Linked DNA regions of Homo sapiens. The protein of the gene in region 1 interacts with the protein of each later gene in a pairwise test. Each region holds a gene or a part of one and is shown on either strand. Other genes may lie near its edges. The genes, in order: MESP1 and ZIC3.

Region 1 (3,691 bases):
GCCTGGCTAATTTTTGCATTTTTAATAAGACGGGGTTTCACCACGGTGGCCAGGGTGGTCTCAATCTCCTGACCTCATGATCCACCCCCCTTGGCCTGCCAAAGTGCTGGGATTACAGGTGTGAGCCACCGCGCCCGGCCCAATATTAACTTTCACCTGAAAGGTGTCTGCGGCCTTTTCGACCAGCTGAACACCATAATCCTCTTTAAGTGGCTGAATGGTCACACCTCTTCCATTGACAAGCTGGGTTAAGTCAATAGGTTGAGTAGGATCAACACGACCCAAATCAGTAACATATTACAGTCTATTGATACTTAAAGGTTGATACTGGTGTCTGAAGCTAAGTCCTTCATTAAATCTGTATTTTGGGATTCCGATGTAAAATAGAGTCTGGCCATCCCCAAAGCCCAGCAGAGCCAGTTTCCTCTCTGCCTTTCTCTTTTATGGCCTCTGCCGCATTTTCTACCTCTTCTCCGACCTTTTGGTCGTCTCATGGGTTTCCTGGAGCCAGGATTCCGCTTTAAATTGGTCAGGCTCATGCGCAGCAGGGCCCAGAGCTGCCATAACCTGCGAAAAGAGTTTTATTTCTTCCTTTCTGACCTGTATGTCTTTTGTTTCCTAATTGCATAGCCTAGATCCTCCATCTGGTACAATGTTGAATAGGAGTGGTAAGAGAGACACCCTCGCTTTGTTCCTGCAATCGGGGGGTGGGGGGAAGATTTCAGTCTTTCACTACTCAGTATGAGGCTACCTGTAGGTTCTTTGTAGGAGCCTTTCATCAGGTTGATGAAATTCCTCTCTATTCTTAGTTTGCTGAGAATTTTCATCACGAAGGGTGTTGGATTTTGTCAAATGCCTTTGCTGCGTCATTTCCACTCACATTTCATTGGGAAAACCTGTTATACCTGTCCAATAGCGGCAGAACATCAGGTAAAGGCCAGTGGTGACAGCTGTGGCAACAGGCCAAGCTCCAGACCTTGCCAGGCTAGAGGTGGCCTGGGGTTGGAGCAGGCTTAACCCCCTCCCTCTGCTCAGAAGGTCCAGCATCCTGACCAGACTCGGCAGCTTATTGAATTTGCCGGGGTGCAAGCTTCCTTGCACTGTCCACATGTTCTTACCAGGGAAGGGTCTACCCAGGGCCATCCTGCCTCAAAGGAGAAGTGGTTTACTGTTTTCTCCACCTTTAGAGGGAATGAGGGTCCCTGCTCCTGGTCCTTACTCTACTCCACTGTCCAATTGGCGCATGCCCTGAGGCTCTCATTATACAAATTGGAAGCTAAGGTGCAAAAGAACTAAGAATTTGCATAAGGTCCCCAACAGGTGAAGGCAGGCCCCAAACCTAGGATCTAGATTTCGTTTTTCTGACCCCGCTTCCTTTAACCTGCAGGGCTGGCCCAACGCCCCGGGCTTCACCCAACACTGGGCGCAGGCGGGAAGGCCGAGAGGCTGGGTCGGGCGCCCAAGCGAGGGCCCAGGTGGGGCGAAACAGGCGCAGTCAAGGGGCTGGCACCTTGGCCCCCCGCCGTGGATTCAAAGGGTCAGGCTCCGCCCCCTCCAAGCCCCGAGCCCACTTTGATGTGCTGATGCGGCCTGGAAGGGGCCACTTCACACCTCGGGCTCGGCATAAAGCGGCCGCCGGCCGCCGGCCCCCAGACGCGCCGCCGCTGCCATGGCCCAGCCCCTGTGCCCGCCGCTCTCCGAGTCCTGGATGCTCTCTGCGGCCTGGGGCCCAACTCGGCGGCCGCCGCCCTCCGACAAGGACTGCGGCCGCTCCCTCGTCTCGTCCCCAGACTCATGGGGCAGCACCCCAGCCGACAGCCCCGTGGCGAGCCCCGCGCGGCCAGGCACCCTCCGGGACCCCCGCGCCCCCTCCGTAGGTAGGCGCGGCGCGCGCAGCAGCCGCCTGGGCAGCGGGCAGAGGCAGAGCGCCAGTGAGCGGGAGAAACTGCGCATGCGCACGCTGGCCCGCGCCCTGCACGAGCTGCGCCGCTTTCTACCGCCGTCCGTGGCGCCCGCGGGCCAGAGCCTGACCAAGATCGAGACGCTGCGCCTGGCTATCCGCTATATCGGCCACCTGTCGGCCGTGCTAGGCCTCAGCGAGGAGAGTCTCCAGCGCCGGTGCCGGCAGCGCGGTGACGCGGGGTCCCCTCGGGGCTGCCCGCTGTGCCCCGACGACTGCCCCGCGCAGATGCAGACACGGACGCAGGCTGAGGGGCAGGGGCAGGGGCGCGGGCTGGGCCTGGTATCCGCCGTCCGCGCCGGGGCGTCCTGGGGATCCCCGCCTGCCTGCCCCGGAGCCCGAGCTGCACCCGAGCCGCGCGACCCGCCTGCGCTGTTCGCCGAGGCGGCGTGCCCTGAAGGGCAGGCGATGGAGCCAAGCCCACCGTCCCCGGTTAGTGTCCCCTTCCCCGCGCCCCCTTCGTCCGTGCCCCCGCGCACAGCCCCACCGCCCGCCAAGGTGAGGACCAGGCACCCTGCTGCTCCCCGCCGGCAGCCTGGCCACCTGGCCACCATAGTATGCCCAGGGCTCCAAGAAGCGAAGGCAGGGAAAGGCCACGCAGAGGACTGGGTCTCCCCTCGCTAGGGGCCCCCTGAGAGTGGAGCCCACGAGCGCGGACACCCGCACAAGGCCACCAGTGCTTGAGGGCTGCGCTGTTCCGTCTCTCCCTACAGCTCCTTCCGGGCGACGTGCTGGCTCTGTTGGAGACCTGGATGCCCCTCTCGCCTCTGGAGTGGCTGCCTGAGGAGCCCAAGTGACAAGGGACAACTGACGCCGTCTCTGTGAGCACCGAGGCTTTTTGGCCTCAGCACCTTCGAAGTGGTTCCTTGGCAGACTGCCTTTCCTGGAAGAGGGCACGGGCGATCCCGACGGGGGCATTCCTGCGGGTGAGAGCCGTCCCCACCGCGGCGGCCCTTCTCAGCCCCTCCCTCCATGGAGGGACCCATAGGGCTAGACACTTTGAGGCAAGCAGGAGGCTCTGCCTAATGTGAATTTATTTATTTGTGAATAAACTGTACTGGTGTCAGTTGGCAATTTCTTCTTCCTACCCGTGGACACAGAGCTCCCTCTCTCCCTCCAAAGAAGAGCATGGGAGAGGTGGGAGGGGTTCTTGCAATCTTTAGCCCCCCGACCCCCACAGGCCCAGACCCCTTTGGCCTTACCCCCAGCCCTGGCTCAGCATCTAGTCCAGATGGGTCAGCCTGGAATGGGTGGGGAGGGACGTCCTGTGAGAAGGCAGCGGCAAGTAGAATCTGCTCATCTTTTCTTTGAACCTGGTGGGGAACTGGTTAAAACCAAAATATCTGTGTAGAAATACAACTCCATTATTGAGTATTTATTGTATGTACATCAGGTACCTATTATACTCAAGTAACCATTTTACAGAAGGATGAGGATCAGCGCTCAAGCCCAGGTAGGCCTCCAGAGTCCCAGCGCTCAGCTCTTGTGGGATTTTGCCAGCTCCATACATGTTGGGGCCTGAGGGATAACAGCTCCAAGGGGTTATTTTCTTGCATCCTGTGGTCTTATTCTCCATGCACGGGAGCATCCTGGCCTTGGAACTCCCCCACCCTCCGCCGGCATTTTCCCATCTGCCTTTTCTCTGGTTTCCCCACCTTGTGGCTTAGAGACATAAATAATGGTGTGGCGGTCCTGAGTTTATATAACCATGACCTCCTACAGGCCTAGATG
Region 2 (3,792 bases), on another chromosome or scaffold:
CTCTTTATTAGCGGTCGGCGGTTTGTAAACACTCGGCCCGACGCCGGGCCGCGGAACGGAAGCGCCCGCGCTGCCAACCCTCTGTCTTCCACGTTAAATCCGATTTGCTCCAGCAGTGACACCTTGAACCCATTTTGGGGACCGGGCGGGGGTGGGGGTGAGGGGGTGGGCGGGAGTGAGCAAAGTTGGGAGGGGGAGGAAGCGGAGGGAACAATCGGTTGTTTACTGGGAAGCTCTAGCCGAGCTCGCCTGGGCTTGCGGGGCTGCCGTGGCCGCCTCTTCCCGACTCAGCCCGCGGTGGGAACCGAGAGTAGCCGCGCCGAACCCGAGGGTGGGTGGTTCATTCGCTCTTTGGCTTCGGATAAAACAATAGGGCCGAGGAGTGCAATCTGATTCCCACACATTTGTCTGCGACTTCGCAGCGCTCAGGGCCCCTGTGCCACCTTCTCTGTACCTGCTTTCTCAAGCCGAAACGGGCTTGGTGAAACCTGGGCCCGGAGTTAGTATTTTATAGGACCTCACAGTGTACTGCTTACCTCACTCCATCCGCGGAGAAAGCATTTTTGAAGTGGCATGACCAAAACGGAATGCTTTATTCCTTTTCCGTAACACCAGTCTTAGGAGCAAAACTGGTTTTTGGCGAACATCTCCGGGTTTTCTAGACATCGGTAATACGGATTTTTTTTAAGCAGCATTTTTCTTTTAAGTGGGTCACTGGGCGGTCTTGTTGTTACAGTGCTCGAATTCTGCTCTTGTTTTTGCTTGCACATTGCCAGTTGGAATTATATTCATTATAATATATACATGTTAATTTTAGGTTCATGAATCTCAAGGGTCAGATTCCTCCCCTGCTGCCAGTTCAGGCTATGAATCTTCCACTCCACCCGCTATAGCTTCTGCAAACAGTAAAGATACCACTAAAACCCCTTCTGCAGTTCAAACTAGCACCAGCCACAACCCTGGACTTCCTCCTAATTTTAACGAATGGTACGTCTGAGGACAAACACAAACCCTGTTAATTATAGAATGGACCAAATACATTTTTAAAAGAAAACTGAGACCAATCAGATGGAAATGGAGTTTTAAGGCAAGAGGCCATATATAGGGCTACATCTTGTTAATTGCAATTGTCCAGGAAGGTTTTGGGCAAGATCCAAAAGTAGCCATGCCCTTTTCTCAGGATAGAAAATATGTTTTGGCATTTGAAGCATTTTTTACAAAATCTTTACACTACTTTTTCTTCCCCTTCCTCTTGCTCTCTGCACACCCCATTCTTAAACTCCTCCAATTCATTTTAACACTTGTCCTGTTTCTTGAGAGGAAGTTATAGAAGGCTTGTTGGTGGTGGTGATGTTAAACTGATGGAAATTCTTTTTCGCCTTAGTGGTGATTGTTTAAACTCTCACAGTCTTAAACCGTGCCAAAGTCCTGTTATGTCTTGAACTTTTCCTCAAAGCATTACACTTGTGAATGTATTTTTGTCTAATAGGGTCGAAACTGTTGTTCAGTATTTTTTCAGGCTGAGGATGTGATGTTACTCTACACATTGTGACGTTTAGTATACAGTTGCCTTTTGTAATAACTTTTTTTTTGTAAATACATATCCATTGATGCCATATTTATCGTTTGTAATTTAATTATTGCTACAAGTGCCGGGAACTGAACAATATTTATGGATAAATGTTTTCTAACAAATTCTGTACAGCTTTTGATTATAACTGCTTTAGCATTAAAAATTGTTTTGAAAGAAGAACACAATTTACAATTTTGGAACCACTGACTCCTTTCTCTTGTTTTGTAACAGCCTTCTTCTACAAAGAGGAGATGTGAGCAAATTAAATCTTGTTTGTTGGTATTTATAACTCACTCAGATCCCTTTTTTAATTGTTAAATTATTTTTCTATTACAGTATAAATTCCTTACAGTGTCAGTTTCCATCTGGGAAGACTCTCCTTTCTTTATCTCTATCTCAGATGGTTGTTTAACTGCGAGTTTAAATGTGTTTGTCCTGGATTTTCGGCATGCAAATCAAATATTACTGATCAATTCAGTTAGTGGCCATGACATCTCAATCTTGTACTTCAAAGACTGAGAAGCTGGATTTAATCATCCCTGCCCTACATATATAAACATAAGGTAACCTACTGAATTTTATGTCCCTTAGTTCTTTATTACCTTACATAAAAATGAAAATTGCGGCAGGATGCATGTCTGTCTGTTCTATCTAGAGATCACCCATATACCTATATATGTTTGTATCTATGACTTATCTAATCTGCCTATCAATCTATCTAGTAGCTATCTATATATTTTCAAAAGATAGCTTATGTCTAAAACAGTGGTGATGAGTAAGGCCAGTTGAGCATTGCTTACTTATGGTTAAAGTGCTTCTTAAAAGAACCATAGTCCATTTACAATTTTGGAAGGCAAAGGCTGATTTGTTTGCTGTATATAGTTCAATTCATAATTATCGCAATTATCCATAACATTTATATAGCGGTGTAATAACTGCAGCAGTTCTGAAATGATGCTATGGGAAAAAAATTGCAAAATATGTATTTTTAAAGTTCATGATTTGTAGGCAAAGATGTTAAGAGCATTGTTTCCATTAAAATCAATAACAATGAAAAACGGTTGTTTGCTTTGTGATAAAATGTTAACAATCCATTTAATCTTCAGTGAAGCAACTCATTTGGACAAACAGTTCTTTTACAGTGGTTATATGGAAAAGAAATTGATTGCTATTTTGGGGGGCTGGAGTGGGTAGAGTATTGAGACCTTTTTTATTAGGGTGCTGTTTGTTATTGAGAGCCCAATCTCTGCATGAATAACAGAAAGGTGGACATAAGGAATTGTAAAGTATTTAGAATGTATTGAATAGGCTTAAGTACCTCCTTTAAGGGGCAATGCTCTAGGTTTTTGGTGGCAGTCAATTTGGTATTATATATGATCATTTTCAATTCTAGAATTTTGTTTATTGTTCTTTTTGAAGAAATAAAGTCTTGGCACATCTTATTTATGTTATAACATTTTTGTATTTGGTGCCTGATTTTTTTTCATGTTCAAATAAATCAATCTAAAATTGAAATGCTTACAGAACTTCTGATGATTAAAAGAAACTTTGATTCTGTGAATGCGGTTGAAGCAGTCTATTTAAGTTATCTACTGATCTTTGTCAACAGACAATTAGTTATTGACAGTTTCTAATTGCAAATTGCTTTGGAGGCTATTTTTTGTTAGTGGAGAATAATGGGGTCTTTTGCATTTTCTTCCACCAATATCCAAGCCTGAATGCCATGAACAGAGATTGGGATGACTACACATGTGATGAGCAGGTAACCTGGTCAGTCTATCACTCCCAACCCAGACATTCCGATCTTGACCTTGACATTGAGGGTGCTGGACCAGATTCCTATTTCAGGCTTTTTCCTTCACCTCAAACCAGAGACCATTTTAAATGCTCAGCAAGTTCTCAGAAAGTATATATTCATAAGACTGGCTCTAAGTGTGTTCCATTGTGAAATCTAAATAGTGTATTTTTCTTCTGAACTGTACAATGAACTTCCATAATTTACCACTTTCTCCATGAGTTCCCTCCCCCACCCTCAATCTAACCTAACTTTACGTGGAAGTAGAGCCATGGGTTGGATACAGGATTCAACCAAAAACCTGCCTCCCTTTCAATTAAATGTATTAAATATCTCCTGAGACAAAGAGCAGTTTGATCTTTTCTTAGTTACCTGAAATTATTCTACCATAAAATTTTACAGGAAAGTACTTGAGGGTCCTAAG

What was found.
Region 2: the proteins of MESP1 (region 1) and ZIC3 interact in a two-hybrid assay, tested with the Homo sapiens proteins (one large-scale study listed by BioGRID).

What each region holds. Positions count from the first base shown.
Region 1 is NC_000015.10:89,749,210-89,752,900, reverse strand, and holds MESP1 (mesoderm posterior protein 1), read left to right. Parts: upstream 1-1,651; 5' UTR 1,652-1,669; coding exon 1,670-2,392; intron 2,393-2,673; coding exon 2,674-2,757; 3' UTR 2,758-3,026; downstream 3,027-3,691. UniProt on the Homo sapiens protein: Transcription factor. Plays a role in the epithelialization of somitic mesoderm and in the development of cardiac mesoderm. Defines the rostrocaudal patterning of the somites by participating in distinct Notch pathways.
Region 2 is NC_000023.11:137,569,074-137,572,865, forward strand, and holds the end of ZIC3 (zinc finger protein ZIC 3), read left to right. Parts: intron 1-817; coding exon 818-997; 3' UTR 998-3,029; downstream 3,030-3,792. UniProt on the Homo sapiens protein: Acts as a transcriptional activator. Required in the earliest stages in both axial midline development and left-right (LR) asymmetry specification. Binds to the minimal GLI-consensus sequence 5'-GGGTGGTC-3'.